2 linked regions of the Homo sapiens genome follow. The protein of the gene in region 2 purifies or fractionates together with the protein of the main gene of each other region. This does not show direct contact. Each region holds a gene or a part of one and is shown on either strand. Other genes may lie near its edges. The genes, in order: MYO19 and MYL10.

Evidence for each region.
Region 1: the proteins of MYL10 (region 2) and MYO19 purify together in Homo sapiens (affinity purification with mass spectrometry; 3 studies listed by BioGRID and IntAct, with this or other methods). This does not show direct contact.

What each region holds. Positions count from the first base shown.
Region 1 is NC_000017.11:36,492,227-36,507,535, forward strand, and holds the end of MYO19 (unconventional myosin-XIX), read right to left. Parts: intron 15,287-15,309; coding exon 15,173-15,286; coding exon of another isoform or gene 15,165-15,172; intron 14,914-15,164; coding exon 14,737-14,913; intron 14,383-14,736; coding exon 14,230-14,382; intron 13,179-14,229; coding exon 13,071-13,178; intron 11,795-13,070; coding exon 11,724-11,794; intron 10,975-11,723; coding exon 10,871-10,974; intron 9,736-10,870; coding exon of another isoform or gene 9,716-9,735; exon of another isoform or gene 9,633-9,715; intron 9,010-9,632; coding exon 8,843-9,009; intron 8,734-8,842; coding exon 8,604-8,733; intron 7,087-8,603; exon of another isoform or gene 6,935-7,086; coding exon 6,849-6,934; exon of another isoform or gene 6,334-6,848; coding exon 6,040-6,333; exon of another isoform or gene 5,541-6,039; coding exon of another isoform or gene 5,380-5,540; intron 4,181-5,379; coding exon 4,025-4,180; 3' UTR 3,410-4,024; downstream 1-3,409. Other genes in the region: ZNHIT3 (zinc finger HIT domain-containing protein 3), read left to right, coding at 587-673, 1,700-1,780, 2,997-3,178. UniProt on the Homo sapiens protein: Actin-based motor molecule with ATPase activity that localizes to the mitochondrion outer membrane. Motor protein that moves towards the plus-end of actin filaments. Required for mitochondrial inheritance during mitosis.
Region 2 is NC_000007.14:101,609,008-101,623,783, forward strand, and holds the end of MYL10 (myosin regulatory light chain 10), read right to left. Parts: intron 14,066-14,776; coding exon 13,990-14,065; intron 13,194-13,989; coding exon 13,089-13,193; intron 7,292-13,088; coding exon 7,213-7,291; intron 4,704-7,212; coding exon 4,655-4,703; intron 4,567-4,654; coding exon 4,468-4,566; 3' UTR 4,323-4,467; downstream 1-4,322.

The sequences.
Region 1 (15,309 bases), on a different chromosome or scaffold from region 2:
AGCCTTGACACACTGGGCTTAAGGGATCCTCCTGCCTCAGCCTCCCAAGTAGCTGAGACCACATGTGTGTACCACCATGCCTGGATGATTTTTTTTATTTTCTGTAGAGACATAGTCTTGCTAGGTTGCCCAGGCTGGTCTCAAACTCCTGGGCTCAAGTGATCCTCCCACCTTGGCCTCCGAATGTTAGGATTACAGGCGTGAGCCAGCACAGCTGGCCTTCTGTTGACTCTGTAAGTTCTTTGGTGGTTTTGCCCCTAGTTTTATCCCATCTGGTATCTGGTTTACAGCAGCTATTTCAAACACCTCAGTTAATTGTGGTGAGAATTTTGTAAGATTCGGCAGGGTAGGGAGGATGGGGACAGGTTCTTGGGGTGCATGAATGAGTCCTGCTTTCTCAGCCTGCTGGCGGTTTTCCTTAATCTCTCTCTTGCTTTGATCTCTCACTTCTTCCACATTCCTGGGCACCCACCCACATCCCTTACCCCAGACACTTGCTTCCTACCTAGATGCTACCTTGGTAGGGAGGTGCAGCCTTGTCGCTGAAATGGAGGTAATGTGGGCCTGGGATTTGTGTCTTTTTCAGAACAGTGCAACCCTGAAACTCGTCCTGTTGAGAAAAAAATAAGATCAGCTCTTCCTACCAAAACCGTAAAGCCTGTGGAAAACAAAGGTGGGTTGGTTGACTTCAAACAAATCTACAAGGGACTTCACATAGAATAAGTCGAAGGAAAAGGGGAGAGTGGGGCTGGTCAGGGAATCCAGAACAATAGCTTCATTGGGAAGGAACAGCTTCCTTAGCCTTGAGCATCAGGAGTGGGGCCATGTCATCATGGGTGATATTGAGGCAACAGCCTGAAAGCAGTATTCAGGAGAAGAAAAATGGGCAGAAGACAGAGATGAGAAAGGCCATGGCTGTGGTTTGGGGGTTTGCGGTGGGCCCTGCTGGCAGGAGCCTTCTCTAGCCCATAGCTGCTGGTCTCCCTCCATGAATCTGGCTGGGACTGTCAGTTCACCTGAACTCAGCCCAGGCAGGAGGCTTTCTTTGTCCTAGATCATCTCGCTGCTGCTGGGGGTTCAGAGCTCACAGCAGTAGTGGGCTGTCAACCCATCCGTCCAGCCATCTAAACGTTCTTTAATACCTCCTGGGTGTCAAGCACCATGCCAGGCTCTGAAAGCAGCCCCTCTGGTGCCACCAAAGAGGTATTGAACATTCACTCCAAAGGCATGGCCCATTTTTGCCCTTTGAGAAATTTCCAGGTTGGGTTCAGGCAATGCCAGCAGTTTCTGCCCATGCTGAAAGCACAGGAGATTCTACTTGGCTGGTTTTTACAGAGCATCCAGTTAATTGGCCCATCACAGGGTTGGAGCCATGTTGAGGTGGGGATGGGTATTAAGTTATTAGACAACCGGGGTCTAAGCCTAAAGACCACAGGACCACATATACAGTAAGGATGTGAACACTAGAGTGCATTTGTTAAAATCACCAATTCTTTCACTTAGCCTCCCTCTTCTAAAAAAGGAGTGTTAGTATAGTCACAGACTCCGGAGAAGAGGATTTTTGTCTGTACCTGCTTGAATACCCCTATCACTATCACATGTGCGTGCACACATTTTTATCCTGTTCAAGTAGTGGTTAAAATCTGGTGCCCAGGCCTCCTTTTTAGCCATGAGCCATTGACTGTTTTGTATTCCTTAGATGATGATGACTCTATAGCTGATTTTCTCAATAGTGATGAGGAAGAAGACAGAGTTTCTTTGCAGAATTTAAAGAATTTAGGTAAGTCTGTGCTATGCTTGTCAATCGTTGAGATACATTTACTGTGTTGTAAGGATTGTGATTTTTTAAAAAGTTTTTAATTTCTTGAATAAGTATGGCATGTAGGGCTCTTACTATCTAGCCACATAATCTGTAAACATACAGGGTTTCACACCTCCCAGCCTGCCCACACCATTCCTTCTGCCTGGAATCCTGCTGGTCTTGTGGGTTGGCAAAATTCTGCTCCTCCTTCAAGCCTTGGTTCAAGTTTTCTTCACTCAGCTAAGCTTTTCTTGACCTTTTGTGTCTCTTTCAGAATTAGGCACTTTTTTGGTTTCCCATAGCAACTTGGACTTAATAGTAATAAATCACTGTTACATTTCATGGTAATTTGTCTCTCACATACCGATTTGTACAGCAGGGACCTGTATTCCCAGATCCCCAGTGCTCAGCTCACAGTCCAGCCCTTAACACAAACTGGTTATCACATGATTTGATTTAGGGGGAAACAGGTGTTGCCATTTTTGTAGCACTGCTTATTCAGTCCTTACAACATTCTGTTACATGTGCATGGGGTCTGTTAATTTCATTCTTCCCATTTCACAGAATCATGTTAAAAGGTTATGTTTTGCACTTAGTCTCATGGTAATGATTAGTTAGACTGAGTTTGGAGATGAGCTAGTAATAGGTGTGAAAAATTTTACAGACTGTGAAGTACCATGCAGGTATTATTGTTGGTTCCCTGCTACTGGTGCTGCTGCATGCCAAATGGCATGCTTAGACATCATTCAGATTATTTCGTATAGCCGTCTTCACCACTGGCAACTTTTATGGCTAGAAAGAAAGAAAACATGCCAGCAGCTTAATGCTACTATTTGCTTTGTGATTGTGCTGATAAAGCATTTTTTTCTTAGCTGAAGTGGCACGAAGTTACAATATTTACAAAGATACCAAGAACTGGTATCTGTTACTGCATTTAATGCGGAAATAGTTTGATATGCTGGTCTTACCTTTCATTTTATAGAGGTGGGGTCTCGCCATGTTGCACAGGCTGGTCTTGAACTCCTGAGCTCAAGCAATCTGCCCACCTTGACCTCCCCAGTTGCTGGTATTACAGGCATGAGCCACCACACCTTGCTGATAGTTTTATTACACTTGAAATAGCTCTTCACTTTTCAGCCATCTCCATGTGTTTCCACTTGAACTCAGACTGGCTTTTTTTCTTGTTAATTTTTAGGGGAATCTGCAACATTAAGAAGCTTATTGCTCAATCCACACCTCAGGCAGTTGATGGTCAACCTCGATCAGGGAGAAGACAAAGCAAAGCTCATGAGAGCTTACATGCAAGAGCCTTTGTTTGTGGAGTTTGCAGACTGCTGTTTAGGAATTGTGGAGCCATCCCAGAATGAGGAGTCTTAAGATGGATTATTGTGCTGCTTGCTCAAGCGTGTGCTTGACTCCTGGAACCTGCCTGCTCCCTCTCCCAGACCAGCTAGTTTGGGGCTGGGGAGCTCAGGCAAAAGAGGTTTCCAGGATGCAGATTAGGTCATGCAGGCCTTTACCGGCATTGATGTGGCTCATGTTTCAGGCAGACTTGGGGTCCTTAAGGTGGCAAGTCCTTTATGGAGAGAAAACTTGACATTCAGATGATTGTTTTTAAATGTTTTACTTTTGGTACAGTTGATAGACATCATAAACGATATCAAGCTTACACTTCATATGGAGTTAAACTTGGTCAGTGTTAATAAAATCAAAACGTGATTCTACTGTACATTGCATTATTCATAATTTAATTGTTTGAAATTACATTAAATAAATCAACTAATTAAATACTAAAGTTTTGTTCCTTTTTAAAGGAAATAACCACAAGATTTTTCCCAGCCCAAATTCCAGCGCCAATTTTAGGCCAACTTTGGCTGTTTTCTTCCAAAAGTGCTTATGTGGAATTGGGATCCCCAGTGTAGTGACAGACAGTCATGACTGCTGCTGAGTTTGATCTGTGAAGGTAGTGAAATGTGGCCCTGATGTTTCTTAACCCTGATTTGGTAACTACCAGCCCTGACACCATCAGTGCTTGATGTAGCCTGGAACCCCAGGCCCACTGACGCACTGGGCACGGGGCTCTGGGTCGAAGGCTGGAGCCGTCACTGTTGTTCATGTGCATTTGGAGCACTGTGGGAATAGTCTGGCAGCTGTGTGCTGATTAAATGTCTTTGGCAAGGCAGGGGGCAGGAAAAGGCCTTGTGGAAACAAAGGCACCAAGGATCACCCCAGCCCAGTGAAGGCAGAAGAGGTCACGTGGATCAGCCTGTGTCTTTCCAGCAGAATCTGATTAAAGCCTGTAATGCTGTAGGGTGAAGGTTCAGGGCAGATGTCAGCATACCGCAGTGGAGACTTTCTGCAGTGAAACTTTATCGATCCCTAGAGGGGAGAGAGAGATGCAGCTTTAGCACTAGTTCCTGGGAGTGCCAGGGCCTAACAACCCCACAGAGCAGACGCTAAAAATGCAAGAAGGTATGGACAAGTACTAGTATTGGGGGCCACAGCAGGATTAAAATAGCATTACATCCACTCAGTGTGAGACAGATGAGGAAACCCTAGGAGGAGGCGCTCCCTAAGAGGAATGTCTGTCACATTCCTATGACTGCTTAAAGCCAGAAGGGCAAAACATTTACCCTTCTGTTTAGCAGGCCTGTGTGTTTTCATGGGAGACTTCATCCAGATTAAGGCCTATAGTTATTCCTCTGAATGGAAATTTGGTGTTTCCTTCTGCCTTGTCATTTCACTTACTCCTTGCTGTGACTCCATGCAGTAGGTTGAGTATTAGCCCATTTTATAGACAGGCTCCGAGAAAATGTGTCTTAGCCAAGATCATCCAGTGAATGGGGCAGAACCAGGATCCAGACCCTGGGGTTCTACCTCCCAGTGCAACATACTTTCACCTTTCCTCGGCCACTTTAATTCTATGAGGCCTGGCTTACTGGGGTGACTCACAAAGCCCTGAGTGACAATGACTTCCTGAGTGTGCTGGCTGACTTTTCCCTGGATGCTTATATAAAAACAGCTGGGCACGGTGGCTCACACCTGTAATCCCAGCACTTTGGGAGGGCAAGGCAGGCAGACCACTTGAGGTCAGGAGTTTGAGACCAGCCTGGCCAATATGGCGAAACCCCGTCTCTATTAAAAATACAAAAAAAAAAATATAGCCAGGCATGGTGGCACATGCCCTGTAGTCCCAGCTATTCGGGAGGCTGAGGCAGGAGAATCGCTTAAACCCACTGCATTCCATCCTGGGCGACAGAGTGAGACTCCGTCTCAAAAAATTAAATAACATGAAAAAAAAAAAAAACCCACAGAGAACTTGGACCACTGACCCTGCTTGTCATTTCGTCAGCCAGAAAAGGAAAAAACCAAGCAATACAATTTGGGGAAAACATGGTGCCAAATCCAGTGCCATTTGAGGTAACAAACTCCTCACAACCCAAGTTGTGATGTGGGACTAATTAGATTATTTGCTCTCAAGTCTTGGGTAGTTTCTTTTTTGCTATGTCTCGTGAATTTTTCCTCTTTTCTGTAATTGACCTATTATTACCCTAAACCAAACTTTTTTTTTTTTTTAGATGGACTCTCGTCCTGTCACCCAGGCTGGAGTGCAGCGGCGCAATCTCGGCTCACTGCAACCTCTCCCTCCCAGATTCAAGCAATTCTCATGCCTCAGCCTCCCGAGCAGCTGGGACTACAGGCGCCTGCCACTACGCCCAACCAATTTTTGTATTTTTAGTAGAGATGGGGTTTCGCCATGTTGGCCAGGCTGGTCTTGAACTCCTGACCTCAGGTGATACACCCGCCTCGACTTCCCAAAGTACTGGGATTATAGGCGTGAGCCACCGCTCCAGGCCCTAAGCTAAACTTTCATCACCTCCTGCTCCTGACTCATCTAAAGCCTTGGTTCTCACAGTGTGGTTCATGGAGCATCAGAATCAGCTGGGAGCTTGCTAGAAACGCAGCATTGCATTTGGAAATGGGACTAGAAGATTTAGAGATGCTGAAATAATTAGAAGCAGTTTTTAAAAAGATAAAGGGCTCTGGAAGATTCCCAGTTATAACAAAATAAATAATCCAAACCTGCAGCTGATTGGGACATGCAGCCCTCTGGTTTACCCAGTAGGGTTAGGGATGGATCTTGTCCCAGCCTCAGTCTCATTCCCGCTGTGAACTTGTAGGCTTTGCTCCTGCTGTTCTCAGGAACAAAGCTGTCATGGCCATCACACACAACGTACCTGAGGCAGCGCTCGGATGGACGTGACACCAGCCTGGTCTTGTGCTGTCTGGACAGTGTAGCTACTGGGGCTGCCCCTGGGGAGCTGGAGGCAAGCCCAGACCACTAATTTCCTCTGAAAGCTGCCTACACCCATAGCCGTATTGGCCAGGACCAGTCCCAGGGGCCAGAGGCGGATTATTGCCTCCAGGAGCCTGGTCTGCAGCGGCGAGGTGCTCAGGGAACAGGGAGCTTGAGAGAAGTGTTTTTCTTCCACACCATCCAGCTCTTTAGCAGCAAGGCAGGCCATTCTGATCTTAAAAAGCAAATATCCCTTTATAGCTTTAGATTTATCTAGCCCTCTTAGCAGAAAATGGAAATCAAAACTATCTTTAACAAATCATCTTAACAAGGTGAACTGAAGGCACCTGGTTGCAAACAGCTGGCTGCCCTGAACCAAACTGGTTCCATATGCCACAAGTCTATACACCCCAGGCAACTGTGCTTAGGCCTTACATATGCTACTTGAAAACAAGATAAGAGTCCATCAAGATATAACTGATATGCCATAAAACCCAGTCTTCTAAAGTGTACATCCCAGAGTTTGGTATATTCCCAGAGTTGCTTATACCACTCTTCACCTACATAACCACCCTGCAGGGTAGGTGTTACTGTGCCCACTGCATACATGAGGAATATGAGGCTCAGAGAGGCTAAACAACCTGCCCAAGGCCACCTGCATTGCAGTGGCAGAGCCAGCATTCCCACTCGGGTCCATCTGGTCCCCAAAATTGATCCACTGCCCACCCCGACTTCTTGGGTCTTACTTACTCTCCACTTCTGCCATGCACGCTTGATGACTGTGGCAGCTGCATGCAGCCTCTGGATGTGTTTCCGAGTTAACCAGGAACGAATGGCTAAGAGGTTTGCCCAGAAACAGGAAAGAGATAATAAAGGGGCCATTAGAGCTGTCAGTGACCTCGCTGCAGCAGCACCACAGTTGCTGTCAAAGTTTCAAATACGTTTTTTTTTTTTCAATAAATTGCTACAAATAAGGTTCTAAAATCAATACATAAGGCAAAATTGGCTTTTAAACATTCCTTACACTGCCCACACACTTGAATACACCTACACAACACAGTGAAGGGGCACTGGGGAGAAGGACTGGCTGAGGGCCCAGCAATCACTTCCCGTCTCAGGCTGGGTCCAGGTCAGCACCCAGGGAATGGGAGGGGTCTGGATTGTCTGTGCCTTTAAAAACTTTTTTTTTTGTTTTGTTTTTAATCCTCAGTTGAATTTGTTCGCTTTATGCATCCCTGATCTCACATCACCATATACCCAAACACTGATACAATTAATAGATGGTGGTAATTTTTATTCCCTTCTCTGCAATTTCAGCATATTCTTTTTCTTTTTGTTTCTTTTTTTTTTTTTTTTTTTTTTTTTTTTTGAGACAGGGTCTTGCCCAGGCTGGAGTGCAGTGGCACGAACAGCTTATTGTAGCCTCCGTAAGGCTGTAGCTTCAATCTCCCAGGCTCAAGCAATCCTCTTGCCTCAGCCTCTGGAGTAACTGGGACTACAGGCATGTGCCACCAGGCACGGTTAATTATGTTTTGTTGTTTTTTTTTTTTTTGAGACAGAGTCTTGCTCTGTCACCCAGGCTGGAGTGTAATGGTGCAATCTCAGCTCACTGCAACCTCTGCCTCCTGGGTTGAGGTGATTCTCCTGCCTCAGCCTCCTGAGTAGCTAGGATTATAGGTGCATACTACCACACTTGGCTAATTTTTGTATTTTTAGTAGAGAAAGGGTTTTGCCATGTTGCCCGGCTGGTATGAAATTCCTGGGCTCAAGTGATCCTCCCACCTCAGCCTCCCAAAATGCTGGGATTACAGGAGCGAACTACTGTGCCCAGCTTCCTTATACAATTTTTTAATGCCTACACACACACAAACACACCTTAAAAGGAGGGCATCGCCCTTAATATGTAGTTTGACATCTAGGTATGAATATCATTTTGGAAGTGGTTCTCCATTAAATTTATAATATTCTTCAAAAACACTTAGCTGCATCATAGGGATGGTCCAGTCCATCATTTGGCCATGATGTCACCACTGTTAGATATTTGGGTTCTTTCCAACACTTTTCCTTTTCAAAATAAGACCACTATGAACATGTTGGTTAATACATCTTTTCATCTGATGAACTCCTTTTGGTTTTTACCTTCTCCTTAAATTCATTCCAGCCCTAGAGCCCAGCAGGTAATGGTTTGAGTTGTCATAAAGGGAAAAAAAGTTGGCCTAAACAGCTGTCAGGGTCTGAGAAAGGAATTAAAGACAACGCTTAGACAACGCTTAGCCTCCACTTCTTACAGAGCACCTTTGTTTGTGGAGTGACTTGGTTTCCATTGAACTGGAGAGACGTTATGAGTGAGGGGGACAGGGAATTTGAATCCCAGCACACCACAGGGACATCTCTTCAGGCTGGGACACAGCTTCAGGAGATGGGGACTCGACGAGCTATGTTTCAAAGGAAACCAACATCCTGTGGGGTCTGTGAGCAGTGCTGACAGGTGACCTGCCCACCTACCTGCCTGGATGAGCATGACGGCCCGCCACTGCCGCTCCTGCTCTCGGTGCCGGTGTCGCCTCCAGCCACCCTGGATGCAGCGGGCACACTGCTCCAGCACCCGGGCACGCCCACATTCCAGAAGCTCCAGCTGGGAGAAAAGGCATCCATTGAGGGCAGCCTCTTCTCCCCCTGCCCCCTCCTGCTGAGGAGAGCACACAGCTTGCCTCTGTAACCTCCTCATCCCCAAACCAGCTCACCATAGAGTCAGTCATGAACACCTTGGTCCTGCCACAGTGCATGGGGGCTGGCATGGCCTCAGCCGAGTCACCAGTTATGGCTGCTGCCTGAGTTAGGACCGGCAGAGTGTGGAGAATGTCCTGGATGAGAGGTTCAAGCGTGGCTTCCTCGCTGTGTGGACACCATTCTGGGGGAGGGAGATGGCCCCATCAGTGCATGGTCATCTCTACATGCCTCTGTGGCCTGAAGAAACTGGCTTTGGCCTCCCTAGCACTCTACAGGTCTCTTTCCTGCTGTTCTTGGCTCTAGCCATTTTCTCCTTGTTCTTCTTTTGGAGGAAGCCACAAACAGCCTCTCTGTTGTCCCTCAGGGTGCTAGCTGTTCCGTGGAGCCTTGGAATACCCACTTGCGCCTGTGTGTCCTGGGGTGTCCCACAGCCTCTACTGCCATGAGTCCCTTTGGGCAGGCTGGCAGAGGGTGCTTGACACCTGGAAGGGTGACTCCTTCCAAGCTTGGAATCCCAGGCTGCTCAGCCAGCATTTGTTTCCAAGGCCCAAACACACATCCTGAGGGCCAAATAGGGCAGCTATAGGCCACTCCCTCAGCCCCGACCCCTCAACTCCCCACCATGTATGGGAAAAGGGAGATCCAATCCCAGCCCTTAGTTTGGGAATCTTCTACTGCAAATAAAAAGAATAAATTAAAAAATAAATTTAAAAAATCCCAGCCCTGCAAAGGTCCCGTGTCCCACTGCCTGCCCTCCCGCAGCTCGCAGAGCTGACTCCTGGAGAGGTAGGATTTACCTGAGGGCTCTGACCACCTTAGATGCCCAGTGCCTCTCTGAAGACAGAGGCTGCCAAAGGAGACACCACAGATGAGAAACAGCAGCAAAATCAACCAGGGGCCAGAAGGGCTATGGGCAAGAGACACGGAACAGGACAGCAAACCATGGAGAGGGAGAAGAAAGGAGAAAGGGTGAAAGGAAAGTGAAAACTGCCCAGGAGGGGAGGAAACAAAGCAGGATTGCCCCAATGGCTGTGAGGGGCCCAGGGTAAGGCTGGGTGGGAGGGGCAGAGGTGCTGGGCTGGGGTCCTGCCGAGGCGGGGCCCCCCGGCAGCCTGTCCTTGGCCTGTTCTCCCTCTGCCTGTGTCTGGGCCCTGTGGCTCCCACAGCCTCTCTTTTATCTGCATGCCGACAACCCCCATATGAGGGCCTCCAGATCCTTCCTTTGAGACTAAAGCCTGCCTAAGTGCCTTGCAGACTTCTTCACTGGACCTGCAGGACAAGTCACCCATGCCCGGGCTCTTCAGCCTCCCTGAACCTCTTTTCCTCTTGCTTTTCCTCACTTCCCAGGCTAAGTTAATTTACTCCTTTCCTCTCCCTCTACATCTAGTCAAGCCCCTACCAAGACTGACCAGTTTCTTCCAACAAATATTTCCCGACTGTGCCCACAATTCTTGTTTCTCTCTATTGGGGCAACTTTGCAGCCTCAATCCCACAGCCCTCCATGGTGCCCCCAGAGTGGTCTCCAGAAAGTGTGAGGCTGATAAGAGTCATTTGCTCCTTCCCCTGCAGTGCCTGCTCATCTGCCCAGAGAATAAAGTCCAGATTCCTTGATGGAGCCCTACCTGCCACTCCAGCCTCACCTGCCCCAGTTCTCTGCCTCAATGAACCAGCAACACAGAACTGGCTGGAGTTCCTCATACCCACACTGCTGCCTCAAGCCTCTAGGCCTTTGTTCAGATTACATTTATCATGTGGACCACCCATCACCTGGCTAATCCAATTTATTCTCAGATACTACCTCTTCCAGGAAGCCTTCCCCAATTCACACCTCCCTAGCACCACCCACAGCATCCTGCTCATAGCTCTGCTTTTCCACTTTCCATGCTATTTGTCTTTTTTGAATCTGTTTCCCCCACTGAACCAAAACCAGGGCTGTGTTTTATTCACCAGTAAGCCCCAGCCCCTAGCCCTAAGACAGGGCACAGGGTAGATGCTCAGTAAACTGTGGTTGCACAAATGACTAACTCATGGGTCCCACTCACCAGGGAGCCCTTTGGCAGGATATGGGCTGTCGGGGCCAGAGGATGTGCAAGGATGAAGCCTTCTTAGTAACTTGTATCGTTCTACAAAGTTTCGGTGAGAGACCCTGGAGGCCAAAGCAGGCAGAAGTAGAGAATTACTTCATCTGTGAGCCAGGTTAACGGTTCAGGGCTCATCAGAAGTTATTCTATTTAATCTGCTCAACAACACAGCACGGTGCTGCCCTCCCCGAGTATCCCCACTGAATGTGAATGTGGTTTTGAAGCGATTTCTAGGATCACTTAGTTGGAAACCCATAAAGACTATTTAAAATGGGTCTGCTCTCCCTGCTGCCTTGGTCTACCAACACAAAGCATCTCTTGTGTTAGCAGGGGATTTGCGGGCTGCCTCCCTCCAAAGGGGCTGACAGGCCTCTCCCCAAACAATTGGACCAGTCCTATGACGCAGACATGCTTGGCCACATCTCCCCTCTGACCTCTCTGACCCCACAGTCTCCTCTGCCTCCCCCAGATCTCCCTGCTCCTCATCAAGGCAACACTTCTCAGACAGCTGCTGGCACCTGATATCTGCACTTCCTCCCAATTGCTTGTCAGCCCTCCTGAGTCTGGCTTCTGTCCCCAACATTGTACCAGTGTGGCTTTTGTCACAGCCATCAGCTGGGTACAAAATAGTGCACAATAAGTGAATGGATGAACGAATGGGTGCTGCTCCCTAGTTCCCAGCTGACTTCTACAGACCAGCCTCTTTCTCTTCATTTCCACATCTCACTCTGGGTTGGGCAGGCTCTTGCCCAATGAGAGTCCTGAGCCCCACTCTGTACTGGCCCTGCACTGTGCCGTGATCGAGCCCACTCACCGGATGGGGAAGCCAGCAGCACTGATATGGATGGTCTCCACGAGGCCACAGGCCTCCAGCTGGCTCAGGACCTGCAAGGGTGGGGAGACAGGGCAGGCACCTGCAGCATGGGGCCAGCAGGCCAGAAATGCCATTCTCTCAGCCCTTCTTCTTAGACCCTGGCCAGTGCCAAGCTGCAGGCTCTCCCAAGGCTTGGCTAATGGGGGTATCTCCTTGGGGCTGTGAGAAATCGAGGGACCTTGAAAACAAATCTCCCACTAGAAAGGGTCCTGGTGGTCCCAAGTCCCCCTCATCCGACGCATGGCTTCTGATACAGCTGAAGCAAGTGATGTCCTGGCTCCGTCTCACCCTGCCCTCAGTGTAGTCTCACTACCACACAACCCAGCCCAGGCAAATTTCCAGTTTGGATTGTTTTCACTGTCTGCAGGCATTAGAGGGTGGTTCACAGCTGAGAGGCAGGGAAGATTATACTATGAAGATTCTTCTGTGACCTGAACCCAGGTCTTTACCACAGAGCTGAGTTGTCCTGGCTACAAACCGGAAGGCCACATCTACCAGGCCACACCTTCAGCAGTGCCCAGCATTCACCCCTCATCCACATCCCTCAGAACCTGGAATCCCAAGAAAAGGGCAGCTGCTGGCTAGAGTGCTTTTGTTAGATTAGAAAAAAATGATACCGGCTGAGTGCAGTGGCTGCTCATGCCTGTAATCCCAGCACTTTGGGAGGCTGAGGTGGGCAGATCACCTGAGGTCAGGAGTTTGAGACCAGCCTGGCTAACATGGTGAAACTCCATCTCTACTAAAAATACAAAAATTAGCCAGGTGTGGTGGTGCATACCTGTAATTCCAGCTATTTGGGAGACTGAGGCAGGAGAATCACTTGAACTCGGGAGGCGGAAGTTGCAGTGAGCTGAGATTGCACCACTGCACTCCAGCCTGGGTGACAGAGTGAGGCTCAGTCTCAAAAAAAAAAAAAAAAAAGAAAAAAATGATACCTCCAGTGAGAAATGGCTGCACTGTGCGGGGACTGTGTGGTGATGTAGACTTTCAGCTAATCACGAGACACCCATTCCTCTGGGCAGTTTCAGTCTCTCATCAGGGTACATGGCTCAAAAAAACAAGATGCACTGGAACTTGCCTCCCTGGCTAGGCTACTATGCACAGACCACACAACCATACATGCCTGCCCTGCCACAGCAAGGGAGATGGGTCCTCTCTCATGTCAGGCCTGGCCGGAGAGACCACTTCTGTGCACTCCATTTGGAACAGATGTCCTGCCCTTCATCTCTCCAGGGCCTTGGCCAGATGGGGTTTGGTGCGAAGCAGCTTTGGCCCGGTGTTAATTACCTCCTCTTGGAGAAAGGTCTGCGCCTGGCCCTGGCTGTTGGGCTTGATGCAGCGAATGTAGTGGGGCGTGGTGCTGTGTAGGACCTGCAGAAGCTGCTCCAGTGAGGCCTGCAGATGAGAGACCATGGGGTTAGGCAGGGAGAGGGGCTGCCCAGGGCCATCAACTGGGCTCTGGTTAGTAACTACATCAAATGCCTCCAGCGGGCCCTTCCATGATCCTGAGACCAAGAATCTCCTGTGCAGGGATGACTGCTGCAGGCTCTCAACGAGCAGGCTCAGAGCACATTCCTCTCCCAACTTCCCATGCTCCTCACCTCTGTCTTAAGGGACCCTTCTAAACCTGTGATCCTCCCTGACTGTTCTCCCTGAATCCAATCTCCTCCTCTTTCCCCTCCCCACTTCTCCCCAGAGCAATCTTCTTAGAAAAGAACAATCTCAAAACTTCTTGCCATTCGTCCAGCAACAACTGTTATCACTCAGCTCATCCTGTGTGTTGGAGGCTGTGCCACAGGCTGCCTGCTGCCATGTCAGAGCTCACTCCAATGGGCCACACATGTTGGATGAACACCCTCGGGGGTGTGTTTGAGGCTGGGTAGGAAGGTGCTAATCAAACCTGGTTTTCCAGGTGCCTCCTCGAGGTGGTGGTGATAAAGCTAAAGTCTGAAGGATGAGAAGGACTAAACTAGGAAAAGGGGCGTGGAGGATGGGAGTGAGGTGGAGCTGATGGGGCAGTAGTCAAGAGTATCCCAGGAAGGTGGGGCGGTACATGCAAGGACTGAGAGGTGGTAGAAAGCAGACGATGTGAGAGAAGTGAGTGAGGGTAGGGTTAGAACAGGAAGCTAGACAGCTGGAGATGAGCCAGGTCAAAGAAGCTCATGTAGCTGATCCTCTTCCCATGAGCACCCCAGTGGCAGGGGGTGAGAGGCTGCATAGTGCCCCCATAGGCCCCTAGACTTCCCATCATATTATACCTGATAGCCTATTTGTCTACTGTTTCTGTCTTCCACACTGAAGTATAAACTCCAGGGGACTGGGACCACATCTACTTGACTTGCCACTGCTCCCCAACAAACAGCACCGATCCCGGCAGGTGCTCAATAAATATTTGTGAGACCGTGGAGTTTGAACCAAGCACCTCCCATCAGCACATCAGACCCACCTTGAACTTGGACACCACGGTCAACACAGGGGCCCTGCTCTGGCCAGGGGGTTCCTCCTGGGTCTTCTCTTTGGGGTTAGTAGGAAACAGCCCCATGAGCAGGGGGTCCTGGGATTGCTGCAGGAGCCTGGTCAGCTCAGGTGGGATAGGGTCCTATTGGGAAATGGCAAGAGCAGCAGTGAGGGCAGGTGGAGCTTCTGCTCAGGGCCATCCACTGCCCACCCAAGCCGCAGATGACGGGGCTTCCAGGTAGGACAGGGCCTGAGTCCAAGAGAAGGTCCATTGGACAACCAGAGACCTGGAGACCCAGTCTAACATGGGTTATCTCCAGGCAGGTCATGCTTGATTAGTGGAGACCTCAGACAGGTGGGCCCAAGATGGTGATTCTGGATTCTGGGAGGAGGTTCAGGAGAGAAAGGACTCACGATGGGAAACTACTATGTCTGCATAGCAAAGACCCAGCATCTCGTTTCTCGCAGGCCCCACAGGGCATGGCCCAGCCCGTACCTTGTTCTTCTCCACCAGGCCTGCTGTGTGGTACCGCACAGGCCCCGCATAATGCACCACAATGAAGCTGGGCTCCCGGCTGAGCTTATTGTGGCCCAGGCAGGGGCTGCCTGCCAGGGCAGTCTCAATGCGTGTCTGGAGCTGGGCTGCGCTGCTGGGTCGATTGAGGCGGCATTCCTGTGGGATGGGAACAGGGGGTCAGCCACCAACATGAGAGTGTCTCACCACAACCCTCACTGTCCCCACCCTGTGGACCCCATGACAGCAGACATCACACAGGCATCATAGTGTCCCCAACAGAAAAAATATAGCAATTAGCAGATCTATTTGGCAGACTGGGAGGAGAGAGGCACAGAGAGGAAACAGGATAATCATCAAGGCCCCAGAAAACCCAAAGGCCAACTCTGGTGCTCGGCTCATTAGCTGACCTCCCCACCTCATTTATGAGGGAGCAGATGCTGATGGGGCTTCCCTCAATGAGATCCAAACAGGGCTGGTTGTCCTGGTAGTTGATGAATGACCACTCCAGGCCCTCAACTGCGTATTCCTCCTAAAGAACAAGGTGGGATGAGG
Region 2 (14,776 bases):
TCCGTGATTTCTAGGAAAGTCAAAGTCTTGGAGAGCAAGCGGAGCCAGGCTTGGGGTGGAGGGAGGAGCTCCTCTGCTATGTACCTGTCCCCTGTGTCCTGAGCCCAGAGCTCCAGACTGATGGTGGTGCTTCTCTCTCCCGCCTCCCACAGAGGGAACAGGAGCTCAGCAGTGGGGAAAGAGGAGGGGAGACCTTTCACTGTGGCCAAGGGGTAGGGGAGTGTGGCCCCTGTGGTGAAGCAGCTACCGTCAAAGCCAGGGCTGGCCCTCTGCAGGGTCCAACATGCCACTCTCCTTGGCCTCCTTCCTCCTGGCCTCTCAGGGTCTGAATTCTACCCCTCAACCCACAGCCTCCAATCCTTGGCTCCAGGGACCTGCTCCCCCAACCTCAGCCACCCGATTCCAGGGTCACACCTTAGACCTGCTCTTCTCTTCCTTAAACACTCGGTTCTTGTTTCTTACTTTTCTTTCCTTTCCCTCCCTCCTTCCCTCCCTCCCTTCCCTCCCTCCCTCTCTCTCTCTTTCTTTCTTTCTTTCTCTCTCTTTTTCTCTCTCTCTTGCTTTTTTTCTTTTTCTTTCTTTCTCTGTCTTCCTTCCTCCCTCCCTTCCTCCCTCCCTTCCTTCCCTCCTTTCTTTTCTTTTCTTCTCTTTCTCTTTCTTTCTCTCTTCCTCCCTTCCTCCCTCCCTCCCTTCCTCCCTCCCTCCCTTCCTCCCTCCCTCCCTTCCTCCCTCCCTGCCTTCCTCCCTCCCTCCCTTCCTCCCTCCCTGCCTTCCTCCCTCCCTCCCTTCCTCCCTCCCTGCCTCCCTTCCTCCATTCCTCCCTCCCTCCATTCCTCCCTTCTCCCTTCTTTTCTTCTTTCCTCCTTTCCTTTCCTTTCTTTTCTTTATTTTTTTTTCTTTTCTTTTTGTTGATACAGGGCCTCAGGATCTCTCTCTATCACCCAGGCTGGAGTGCAGTGGTGCAATCACAGCTCACTGCAGCCTTGAACTCCTGGGCTCAAGTGATTCTCCTGCCTCAGCCTCCCAAGTAGCTGGGACTACAGGTGTGTGCCACCATGCCTGGCTAGTTTTTTTGTATTTTTAGTAGAGATGATGTTTGGCCATGTTGGCCGGGCTGGTCTCAGATTTCTGACCTCATGTGATCTGTCTGCCTCGGCCTCCCAGGGGCCGGGGTTACAGGCATGCGCCACTGCATCTGCCCAACAGTTCCTTAGATATAACACCCAAAGCACGAGCAGAAATAGCTAAAATAGACTTCATCAAAATGTAAAACTGTTGTACATCAAAGGGCACTATCAAGAGAGTACAAAGACATCCTACAGAATGGGAGAAAATATTTGCAAATCACATATCTAAAAGGGTCCAGGCTGGGCGTGGTGGGCTCTTGCCTGTAATCCCAGCACTTTGGGAAGCCAAGGTGGGAAGACTGGTTGAGCCCAGGAGCTCAAGACCAGCCTGGGCAGCTCTCCAAATAAATAAATAAATAATAAAATAAAATAATATAGAAATTAACCAGGTGGGGTGGCTCATGTTTATAGTCCCAGCTACTTGGGAGGCTGAGGTGGGAGGATTGCTTAAGCCTGGGAGATTGAGGCTGCAGTGAGCTGTGATGGTGCCACTGCACTCCAGCCTGGGTGACAGGGTGAGACCCTGTCTCAAAAATAAATAAATAGACAAATAAATTAAAATAAAAAGATCTAGTATCTAGAATATATAAAGAACTTCTAAACTCAGCAACAAAAAAGTGTAACACAATTTTAAAATGGGCAATGAACCTGAACAGATTTCTCCCAAGAGATACAAATGGCCAATAAAAACATGGTAAGATGCTCAATGTCATTATCCATTAGAGAAATGCAAATCAAAACCCAAATGAAATACCACTTCATACCCATTAAGATGGTTATAATTTTGGAAGAAAAGAAAAACAGAAAATAACAAGTGTTGGCAAGAATGTGGAAAAATTGAAACCCTTGTACATCACTGGTGGGAATACAAAACGGTGTAACCTTTTTGAAAAGCAATTTGGCAATTCCTCAGAAAGTTAAATATAGAGTTACCATATGAACCAGTAATTTCACTCCTAGGTATATGCCTAAGAGAATTGAAAACATGTATTTACACAAAAACTTGTACACAAATGTTCATAGTAGCGTTATCCATAATAGCTAACAGAAATATCTCAAATGTGCATCAACTGATGAATAAACAAAATGTGATCTATCCATAAAATGGAATCTTATCTGGCTACAGAAAGGAATGAAGCCAGGTGTGGTGGCTCATGCCTGTAATCCCAACAATTTGGGAGGCTGAGGCAGATGGATCACCTGAGGTCAGGAGTTCGAGACCAACTTGACCAACGTGGTGAAACCCTCTCTCTACTAAAAATACAAAATTAACCAGGCGTGGTGGCGTACGCCTGTAATCTCAGCTACTCGGGAGGCTGGGGTTGGAGAATCACTTGAACCCAGGAGGCAGAGGTTGCAGTGAGCCAAGATCATGCCACTGCACTCCAGCCTAGGCAACAAGAGTGAAACCCTGTCTCAAAAATAAATAAATAAATAAACAAATAAAGTCTACAACAAGGATGAACCATGAAAATGTTATGCTAAGTGAAAGATGCCAGACACAAAAGGCCATGTATTGCAGGATCCTATTTATATGAATGTCCGGAACAGGCAAATCCATAGAGACGGGCAGTAGTAGCTTCATGGTTGCCAGGGGCTGAGTGCAGGAAGAATAAGGAGTGACCACTAATGAATTTCATTTTGTGGTGATTAATATTCTGTTTGTAAATAGTGGTAAAAGGCAGGGCGCGGTGGCTCACACCTGTAATCCCAGCACTTTGGGAGGCCGAGGCGGTTGGATCACCTGAGGTCAGGAGTTCGAAACCAGCCTGGCCAACATGGCAGAACCCCGTCTCTATTAAAAATACAAATGTTGGCCGGGCATGGTGGCACGTGTCTGTAATCCCAGCTACTTGGGAGGCTGAGGCAGGAGAATCACTTGAACCCGGAAGGCGGAGGTTGCAGTGAACCGAGATCACGCCACTACACTCCAGCCTGGGTGACAGAGTGAGACTGTCTAAAAAAAAACAAAAAAGAAGGGGGGGGTTTTATGGTATGTGAATTGTATCTCAATAAAAAAGTTTTTTTTTAAGTATGCACTCTTTCGCCTCTTTTTCCATACAACATAGTATATATGAGCAATCAACCAAACTGTTGTGTACATCAGTAGTTTGTTCTTATTGCCATGTGGTATTCCCATGTATGAGTGCCCTATCATTTATTTTTATTTATTTATTTATTTATTTATTTTTTCAGACAGGGTCTCGCTGTCGTCCAGGCTGGAGTGCAGTGGTGTGATCACAGCTCACTGCAGCCGCCAACTCCTGGGCTCAAGTGATCCTCCCACCTCAGCCTCCTGAATAGCTGGGACTATAGGCATGCGCCACCATGCCAGGCTAATTTTTAAATTTTTTTTTATTTGTAGAGATGGGGTCTTGCTATGTTGCTGGGACTGGTCTCAAACTCCTGGCGTCAAGCAATCCTCCTGCCTCGGCCTCCCAAAGCTCTGGGACTACAGGCCTGAGCCACTGTGCCCGGCCTCTTTTCAGATCTTTATGGCCATTTGGATATTATTATTGTCGTCTACCTTTTTTGGGGTTATAATCTTTCTATTATAGATATGTAGGATTTTAAAAAAATACATCTTCTGGATATGAGATCTTGTCATGATCTACGTTGCCAGTATCTTTTCTCGTCCGGTGCCTTTTTGCATTCTTAACTGTATCTTTTGGTGAGCAGAAGTTTTTAATTTTGATGAAGTCCAACTTATCCACTTTTATGATCACAGTTATGTGTGTCCCATTTAAGAAATCCTTGCCTACCCCCTAAACATCCCTTGAAGCCACCTCTTCCCTTCTGACGTCTTCACCTCTAGCCAGCTCTTTGCAGCCAGTTTTCTCCCGTGCTTCTCCATTCTCCTCCCACCGATGTCCCCACCCCACTTTTTGCCCCCTCCTCTGCCTTCCTCACTGCAGTCAGCACCATATCCTGCCCAGGGACAGTCCTGGCTCCTCTGAGAGTCCCTGGGACCAGCACAGCCTCTGGCATGCACTAGGTGCTTAATAAAAGCTCCATAAATGAAGGCAATATCCCGTGGCTTAGCAGGGAATCGTTAAAACTGTCAATTAGCTCTAAACACCAGCTCCTCGGGAACATTTGAGCAGAGCCAGAGGAACAAAAAAGGTTTGGAAAAACCAACAAGATAGGAATGTTTCGTTTTCTCCCTCGCTGGAGCATTTACCGCACAAACTCAGACCTCATTAGCATTATTTATTCTTGCTTTGTCCCCAACCGTAGGACAAGGGAAGCCTTTTTCCTGCAGCCTCTGGCTGCAAGAGCTCCCTGTCACACCCCACAACAGTGTTTGCTGCCCCTGAATGTCGGGGAGACTTGTGATCCCCTAATCCTTCTCTTCACCGTGAGTGATGACGTAGCACAGGTTTCTGTAGTCCAGGTTGCCGCACACATCTGGGGGAAATGCTGCAAACATCTGCTTGACCTGAGAAGGAGCAGAGAGTCAGCCTGCACCAGGCCAAGTGGGGGCCAGAGCAGAGAATCCGCCGTGACCCACCAGAATCCCAGTTTACCTCCTCCTCACTGAAGCGGTCTGCCTGGGTCATAAGTTTTTCTTTGATGCTGTTCAAGGGAGAGACACAGTCATGTTCAGGGAACGGGATACCCAGCTTGAACATGCAGATCCCAGGGGTGATGAGGGGCAAGTGGGGGCAGGGGGACATCCTGGACCAGGAGGACATCAACCTGGGGCTGACCCTGCCAGCCCCCCCGATGGCCAAGTAGCTTCTGAACCTCGGTTTTCTCCTCCATGAAGTGGGCTTTCCTCCCAGCATCAGGTAGGGACCAAAAGCAATGACCTGGGGACCCCACCATGAGGGCTACTCTGATTTCCCATCATGCACTATAATCAAGCTCTGGATCATTGAGGGGAGACACCTCAGGTCCCCCACCGCAGAGCCTCTTTTGCCTGATTCTGGACACACTCTTTCCTCCAGCTTGTGACGTTCACTGACACCTGCATAGTGTTTTAGAGACAAGATGCCTGTGCTCTGCCAAGGGTACAGGAAGGCCTGCCCAGGTCCGTGTCCTCCTGGGCCTGCAAGGGCCTGCCCCCTCAAGCTTGGAGGGTCCTGCAGGGTTCTTAAGGGAGCTCAGTGGGCAAAGATGGGATCAGACGGCTGAGTGGGGCCTCGTCCACCCAGAGTGTCCTCTGGCACCGGCTGCGGCAGGCCTCGCTAAGGACCAATGCACATTTTCCATTATTTATGTTTCTGTGGGACAGTCACAGTTTCCAGCTCTCCAAGCCGGGGACTTTTCACAGACTCTGTTTCAACCAGAGCCTCCACCGTGGCCTGTCTGGCCTGCCTGGCCTGCAGCCACAGATCCAGGTCCCATGTCCCAAGGCAGTGCCTTCAGTTCCCAAATTAGGTCCCCAAAGGGTCTTCCCAGCCTTGTCCTTGCACTGGTGAGAGAGAAAGTGGTTGACAGTAGAGGGAGGGCTTGGGGTTACTCCGGGGGTGACTCTGATGCCTCCCCAGGTCCCCAGGATGGAGGTAGGAGCCACAGACCCCGAGGGAGGGGTGAAGGGGAGGACTGTGGACTGCAGCAACCCTCAGCATCCCCTCCCCATCCCAGGGGAGTATGTGACTCATGGTCTTGGAGTTGAGAATGTGTGAGACGGGACAGACCCTCTCCACCTCCACCCCTGCTGCGTCTGCCCTCTCCCTTTGAGATGCGAGAATCTCAAAACCAGCAAAACTAGCCTCAAAATGAAGGCTGGCAGCATTACAGTAATTGATCAGGAAGCCTGGGCCTGGGGAGGAATCTCACCTGCCCCAGGCCACCCTCAGGTCCAGCAAGGTTCTGAAGGGACTGCGTCGGCACAGCTCAGAGGTCAGCCCTGAATCTTGGGTCCTGGGAAGGCTGCCACTCCCCCGCCCACTCCTGCCTGCAATTCTTGGCTCTCTGTTCCCTTGCTGTCACTGGGTGGGGCACCCCTACCCTCATGATGGCAGCCCCGGTGCCTGCCAGACAGCTGCCTGCAGCCACTTCCCCTTCATGCATTCCAAGTGAGCTGGTCACTTTCCCCAATCCTTACTGCCCTCTTGCCCGAGGCGGTGCTGGCTACGATCTGGCTCAGTCCTCTCCCCAGACCCTGGATCCTATGGGCACTGGCCCCTGGCTCTTTGCTTATCTGTCCGCCCGACTCCATCTCGACGGCCATGACCCTCCTGGGAGCTGCAACCCTCTCCTCTCCTTCTCCAGGCTGGCCTCCATGGTGTCCTTGCCTAACTCCTCCTCAGGTTCTCCCATGCTCCCAGGGCAGACGCAGGGTCCAGGGGCTAGGGTGTGAGCGCTCCCCCAGAGGCCCCGCCTGCCGCTCTGTGCTCAGTCTCCCCTACACCACCTCCACCCGCACCCTCCAGCTGCAGCCAACTCTGAACAAACATGCACATGCCAAGCCCTGGCCCTCCAAGCTCTCTGTTCCCTCATCTAGAATGCTGTTCCCCCCCTAGCCTGGGCAACCTGCAGTCATTCTTCAAGATCTGCCTTTGCCCCCACACCCACCCCACTAGGAAGCTCTCCTGGAGTGACCCACCACTTCTTCTTTTTTTTTTTTTTTTTGAGACAGTCTCACTCTGTCGCCCAGTCTGGAGTGCAATGGCGTGATCTCGGCTCACTGCAACCTCCACTTCCTGGGTTCGAGCGATTCTCCTGCCTCAGCCACCAGAGTAGCTGGGACTACAGGCATGCACCACCATGCCTGGCTAATTTTTTTTATTATTTTCAGTAGAGATGGGGTTTTGCTGTGTTGGCCAGGGTGGTCTCAAACTCCTGGTCTCAAGTGATCTGCCCACCTCGGCTTCCCAAAGTGCTGAGATTACAGGCGTGAGCCACCGCGCCCAGCCTGACCCACCATTTCTTATCCATTTCTACTTCCACGCACACATAGAGAAGGGGACACCAAGGCCCAGAGAGGGGAAGGGACATCAAGCGATATCACTGGGCTGGGCAGCGGCCCCCCAGCTCCTGGCTTCTGGGAGAGGAGACTGGGCGACCATCCACCCTGACCCCAGCCCAAAGCTGGCTTATTCCCCTGAGCATTTTGGGGGAGTCAGGGGAAACTTACACATCGGCCTTGACGAAACCTTTCCCTTCAGTGTCGAACACTTTGAAGGCGTGGAGAATGGTCTCCTCTGGGTCCGTGCCTATAAGCAGCACATACAGGGCAGGGAGAGAGGCAGGTGAAGAGGGCCCCACAGGGACAGGCACAAGGCTGGGCAGGGGCTGGGGCTGGGGGCAAGTCCCACGGCCCCTGCACAGAGGCACAGCTCTGGGGAACTTCTTCCCCAACTTTCACTGCACAGCGAGGGCCGAGCTCACTTGAAGCAAGAACAAGGAGGGAAACAGGTAATTGTAATCATAGACAAGGGTACCACATATATATATTTTGTGAACAACCTGAGCAACTGTACACGGAGACCCTGATTGAGCATTTAATTTGTGCTTAGCCCTTCCCTATTTTACAGATGGAAAAGCTGAGACCCAGAGAAGTTAAGTGACTTGCCCAGGGTCTCACAGCTGCATGACCAGTGGTCTGGGTGAGGGGGCATGACTCTGGGGCTCACGTGTTACCCAAGCTGTGCACAAGAGGCCGTGGGTGGAGGAAAAAGAGTTCTGTACGTGGATGCCAAAAGGCTGGGGCTTGGGCAGTGTGGCATTGGAGGGGTCTGAGAGAGATTGTCCCGGCCAGAAGTGGGGCAGGTGGGCCAACAGGCCAAGGGAAGGGATTCACGGGGGCAGAAGTGAAGCCAGAGAAGTTCTGCTTTTATCCCGGTCACAGCACAGCCTTGGGGAGAGATGTCATTAGAAGAAATTAATCTGATACCCACAATGGGATTGAATGTGCAGCCCCCACATTGCACCAATGGGAAACTGAAGCCCAGAGAGAGGAAGGGTCTTGCCCAAGGCTTCACGGGCTGCGTGAATGACAGCAGGTGACCTGGCCACCCTCGCCCGGTGCCCTTTCCCCTTCTGTCACCATGTCCCCCTTGTTCACTGTGGATGCGGGGGTGCCCCCTTCCTTTCTTCAGTGCTCAAATGTGTCATTGGTGAAAGGGGACAGAGATGGTGCTTGCTACCCACCTCACAGGAGCAGCTAAGATAACATACCATTCATGGTAAGGTTTTAACGAACATGGGTTGATCAGGGCTGCAAATACATCTGAGCGCTCTATGCCTGCAGCTTTAAGATTTTATCCCCTGGAGCTCTGAGAGCACCCATGGAGTAGATGTGGATATCTTGGTTTATCATAGAAAAAACAGGCTCAGAGATGTTTCATTACTTGCCCAAGTCCCCACTGATAAGAGAAGGGAGGATTTAAACCCACCTCTGTGGACTCCAGAGTCCCCTGCTCCTTTTGTCACCCTGTGCTCTTGCCAGTCAGATTAGGTCAGCCAGGGCCATGTGCCTCCCTCATCAGACTAGGTCAGGGCCATTTGTTCCTCCACCATCATACTAAGTCAGGACCATCTGTGCCTCCCCCATTAGAGTGGGTCATCGCCATCTGTTCCTCCTGCATCAGACTGGGTCAGGGCCATCTGTGCTTCCTCCATCAGATTAGATCAGGGCCTCATCTGTGCCTCCCCCATCAGACTGGGTCAGGGTCATCTGTGCCTCTCCCATCAAACTGGATCAGGGCCATCTGTGTCTCCCCGATCAGACTGGGTCAGGGCCATCTGTGCCTCTTCCATCAGACTGGATCAGGGCCTTCTGTGCCTCTTCCATCAGACTGGGTCAGAGCCAAGTGTGCTTCCCCCCTCAGATTAGATCAGGGCCTCATCTGTTCCTCCCCCATTAGACTGGGTCAGGGCCATCTGTTCCTCCCCCATCACACCAGATCAAGGTCATCTGTGCCTCTCCCATCAGACTGGGTCAGGGCCATCTGTGCCTCCCCCATCGGACTAGGAACTAGCCAGGACTGGGCAGTGTCTGAGTCTCTGGGCATCTCTGAAACTGGCACAGAGTGAAAAAACCTGGCACACACTGGCCTTGCTGGCCTGGGAACTCCTAGAGGGCAGCGCCATGGACTGCCTCTGGGCAGGGTGGCAGGGAGCTGGTGTGCCCAGCAGAGAGGCTCAGCCCAGGGTGCAGCGAGGGCAGGGCTCCAGGCCCTCACAGCCTGGCCAAGCAGGCAGGGGGTAGCAGGTGCCTCTAGGCGGGTGAGGGTTGAGTGACCAGAGCATCACGTGGGGCACCCATGTGGGATTTGCCTCCGAGGCCACAGCCTCCCAGGTTTCACTGATTAGTTGAAAATTCCCAACGTCTTTGAAGAGGCCTCACTGCTGAGGCAGGTTTGTGGCCGGCTCCAGCCTATCCCCCTGCGGACAATGCACATGGATTTAGGCACCCAGCGCAGCCCTGCCACTCCCTGTTACCGTGGCTGGCAGTCCTCCCTTCTCTCCTCCCCAGAAAGAGCCTCTGTTCTTGAGACTGCAAACCTCATAAAATCTGCTATAGAGTGGCCACTTCCTCCCATCATCGTTGGGAATCTCATGACACAGTCTCCTCTTCCCAATTAGCGGGGTGAGGCGGCGCCGGCCCCAGCACCCTGCCCTCCCGGCTCCTGTCCCCTCCCACCAGCCTCTCACGCAGTCTGGCCACGTCTGCATGACAGGCTCAGCCGGAGCCCCAGTCCCGGCGCCCCTGCAAAAATGAGAAAAAGCTGCAGCCCTGCAGCCCACACCAGGCCCTGGATCACAGCTTCAGCTCAACCATGGACCGACACGAGCTTTTAGTCTCAATCTTCCCATCTGCGAAACAGGTTTGGGGCCCACTGTGAGCTGACAGAGTCCCCTCCCCTTCCCCTGAGCACTCTTGGAGGTCTCTCTAAACTCCTGCTCTGGCAGCAGGGCCCCTCGCCCATGCCCAACACCAGGGGCGGGAGGTGCTCACAGCCTCACCTCCTGGGCCCGGCCCTGGGCCGTCCACCCTGGCAGAACCACAGGCCACTTCCCCAGGCCCTCCCACTGGCCTTTAACACGCCTCCTTCAGTTATGTGCCTGTGGATAAAAGAATCAGGCCTGTCTGCTTCCTTTGAAGTTGCTGGCTGGAGTCACACATGTCTTTTCCACAGAGCATTCTTCTCTCCCGGCCTCCTGGGCTTCTGAGCTCTTCCAGGAGGCGCACATGGTCCTGGGAATAGGCCCCGACAAGCTGCCTGGAGGTGGGCCCAGTGATGCTCCTGATTCGGCTACACAGCCCCAAGTTCAAAGCCTGCTCCAGATGAGCCTGCCCTCCCCAGCCCTGGGTTTCCTCATCTCTCGCACCCAGGCTGATGGCTGCCTTCCTTCTGGCTCTGGATCTGCCAGGACACGGTGCGTGGAGGCTGCTCTACCCCACAGCAGGTCACGACCCATGACAGTACTGATTTTTCACCCCATCAAACCTGTGATGTCAGGTCGGATCACCCTGTGGTGGACTGAATGGTGGCCCCTAAAAAGAGACGTCCACCAGAGGCCGGGCACGGTGGCTTACGCCTGTAATCCCAGCACTTTGGGAGGCCGAGGAAGGCGGATCACGAGGTCAGGAGATCGAGACCATCCTGGCTAACACAGTGAAACCCCATCTCCACTAAAAATACAAAAAAATTAGACGAGCGTGGTGGCAGGCACCTGTAGCCCCAGTTACTTGGGAACCTAAGGCAGGAGAATGGCGTGAACCCGGGAGGCATAGCTTGCAGTAAGCCAAGATCACACCACTGCACTCCAGCCTGGGTGACAGAGCAAGACTCCGTCTCAAAAAAAAAAAAAAAAAAGATATGTCCACCAGAGCCTGCAAATGTCACCTTATTTGGAAAAAAGGACTTTGCAGATGTAAGTTAAGCATCTTGAGATGCAGAGATCATCTTAGATTATCCCAGTAGGACCTGAATCCAACGGCAGGTAGAGTCCAGGCGCGAGGGCTCATGCCTATAATCCCAGCAGTTTGGGAGGCGGATATGGGCGGATCACTTGAGGTCAGGAGTTCGAGACCAGCCTGGCCAATGTAGTGAAACGGTATCTCTACTAAAAATACAAAAAAATTTAGCGGGGCATGGTGGCGGGTGCCTGTAATCCCAGCTTCTTGGGAGGCTGAAGCGTGAGAATCGCTTGAACCTTGGAGGCGGAGGTTGTCCTAAGCTGAGATGGCGCCATTATACTCCAGCCTGGGCAACAGAGTGAGACTCCATCTCAAAAACAAAACAAAATAAACAAAGAGGCAGGTGGAGGGAGGTTAAATAGAAGAGGGCGGGGCCATTGACGGCGAGGCTGAGATGGGAGAGGTAGAGCCACCAGAGGCTGGGAGAGACAACGGATTCTCCCCAAATCCTCTGCCAGATTTCGCACTTCTGGGCTTCAGGACTGTGAGAGAATACATGTCTGTTGTTTTGAGCCACCTGGTTTCACAGAATTTGTTACAGCGGGCTCAGAAAACTATTATAAGCCCATTTTACAGACCAAAAAACTGAGGCCAGAAAGCAGATAAATCTGTGCAAGGTCAACCTAGGAGTCAATGGGAAGCCAGGGTCTGACCCTAGGCCTAGCCAAGGCAGGGGGTTCAAGGGAGGGGGCCTGGCAGGGGCAGCCTGAGGGTGCAGAGCTGACAGTGCTCACTTCCCAGGGACCACTGCCTGGGCTGACCCTTCCTTTTTTTTTTTTTTTTCTTTTTTTTTTTGTAGTGGAGTCTGTCTCTGTCACCCAGGCTGGAGTGCAATGGCACCATCTCGGCTCACGGCAACCTCTGCCTCCCAGGTTCAAGCGATTCTCCTGCCTCAGCCTCCCGAGCAGCTGGGATTACGGGCACCCACCACCATGCCCAGCTAATTTTTGTATTTTTAATAGAGACAGTGTTTCGCCATGTTAGTCAGGGTGGTCTTGACCTCCTGACCTCAGGTGATCCACCCACCTCCGCCTCCCAGAGTGCTGGGATTACAGGCATGAGCCACCGTGCCCGGCCTTGGCCCTTCCTTCTGACCACGGAACCCTCAAGCTCCAGGATGTCACTATGGGAGAGCTCCCCCGAGGCCAGGACAGAAAGGAGACACAGATGGCTCCAACCCTCCACCCCATGCCTAATGCTGTGTCTCGGGCGGGTACAGTGGTTAGAGCCAGGGTTTGGGGTTGAGGTTGCATCCCGGCCACTTTTTGCTGGAGCATCTGGGGCAGGGGTCGTGACTCCTCTGGATCTGAGTCTCTTCATTTGTGAATGAGGCTCCCCGATCCTTCCTCTGGGGGCTCCAGTGACCACAGAAAAAGACAAGGGGAGTAACTTGCCCTGCACAGGGGTCGACCACAGCATCTTTTGGAAACACCCTCCCTCCGGCACCCTCTGCCTATACCCCCAGCCCCATGTGCAGAGCGGGTAAAAGGAGCTCACAGGTAGGAAGGTAGGGAGGCAGCATGGCTGGGGGCAGTGGGATGGGTGGGCAAAGGGGTTAAAGGCAGTGTTTAGTTTTTATGGTTGTTGTTGTTGTTGAGACAGGGCCTTGCTCTGTCACCCAGGCTGGAGTGCAGTGGTGCGATCTCGGCTCACTGCAACCTTCACCTCCCAGGCTCAAGTGATCCTCCCACCTCAGCCTCCAAAGTAGCTGGGACTACAGGCATGTGTCACCATGTCTGGCTAATTTTTGTATTAGTAGAGATGAAGTTTCATTATATCACCCAGGCTGGTCTCAAACTCCTGGACTCAAGCAAACCGCCCGCCTCAGTCTCCCTAAGTGCTGGGATTACAGGCGTGAGCCACCATGCCTGGCCAAGGCAGGGGTCTTTATAGTTACCCCAGTCTGCGGTGAAGAGAGGGAAACCGAGGCAGGGCCCCTGAAGGTGCGTGCACCTGGGGGCTGGTGTCTGGGGCCACATCATGCTCCCACCTGTGGTGTGTATGTGTGTCAGGCCCCTGCCTTCCTACATCCGTCCCCCTGCCATTCCCTGCTGCCCCTCCAGGACTCCAGGAGCCTGGCTCACCCTTCAGCTTCTCCCCAAACATGGTCAGGAACACCGTGAAGTTGATGGGTCCGGGGGCCTCCTTCACCATGGCCTCCAGTTCCTCGTTCTTGACATTGATGCGGCCTGTGGGAGGTGAGAGGTGGGGGCAGGGAGGATAAGAGAGATCAGAGCTTGGGCCTCGGAGGATCCCACAAAGCCTCCCCACTCAGCTGCTCCACGTGCCCCCCACTCAGCCCTAAGGCCCTGACGCCTTTTTGGGGGACTCTTTAGGGGGCATTTGGGCCACAGTCAGCTTCCGGCTGCCCCCAGCCTCATGAGAAGGGAGCAAGTCACTCTCATCCCCATTTTACGGTGAAGAAACTGAGGCCCAAGAAGCTGCAGCTGAGGTGCACGGGGGCTGCAGGCTCAGGGTTCCTGTGCCCCAGGAGGGGATCAGTGGATGCCTGGATGCTGGGATTCCCTGTGGTTCCAGGGGACACTCAGATTCCCAGGGGATCAGGGCCTGGTTACGTCCGTTCTGCCACCTAAACCCTGCATAGGCGACTTCAGGCTCTTCCCTGGGGCCTTAGAGGGATCAGAAACCTCAACCTGGGAGTTGGGTCTTTCCCTCTGACTCAGCTTCTCCCCTGCTTTCCTGGCCCCTCCCCACACCCAGGGTCCCCTACACCAGGCCCAGGCCCAGGCCCAGGCCCATGCTGCTACTCCTGTCCCTGAAGTGTTTTCCCCTTCCCTGGCCGAATCCTTCTCCAACCCCCCAGGAAGGTCCCCCCCTGACTTTCCAGACAGTGGCTGCCTTTACCCTGTGCTCCCCAGCACAGGAGCCTCTCACGCTCACCGCGAGCCCTGCCCTGCTGGCCCCAACCGCCCACTCTGTCTGGCTGGCCTGGCCCTAATCTCCCCCGGCTGCTGGCTCACCCACCCAGCGCGGCAAAGGTGTCCCTCAAGTCCTCTTTGTCGATGAAGCCATCACGGTTCTGGTCCATGATGGTGAAAGCCTGGCAGAGACACAGGTGCTAAGTAGTCACCTGCCCTTCCAAGCCCGGCCACCTCCCCCAGGGACCGTCCTCCTGCCGACTGCTGCCCAAGGAGCCTCGGGGCAGGTCCCTCTGGCAGCCCAGCTGGGATGGGCTCCATCCCCAACCCCTCATTTCAGGCTCACAGCAACTCCAGTTTGCAGACAGGGAAACTGAGGCTCAGAGAGAGAAAAGTCTGGCCCGAGGTCACACAGCAAGCACAGGGTCAGGTACAGAGAGACAAAGAGGCTGCCTGAGGGCAACAGGTCACTCACCCAGGCTCTGGGCCATGGCCATGGTGGCCTCAAAAAATAATGTCATTGGCCAGGCTTGGTGGCTCATGCCTGCAGTCCCAGCAATTTGGGAGGCAGAGGCAGGAGGATTGCTTGAGGTCAGGAGTTTGAGACAAGCCTGGGCGAAATAATGAGACCCTGTCTCTACAAAACATTAAAAAATTAGCCAGGCATGGTGATGAATGCCTGTAGTTTCAGCTACTCAGGAGGCTGAGGTGGGAGGATGGCTTGAGCCCAGGAATTTGAGGCTGCAGGGAGCATTGACTGCAACACTGTACTCCAGCCTGGGTAACAGAGCAAGACCCTGTCTCAAAAAAAAAAAAAAAAAAAAAAACCTAATCATTTAAAAATGTAGTAATGGGCGCTGGGCACTGTGGCTCACGTCTGTAATCCCAGCACT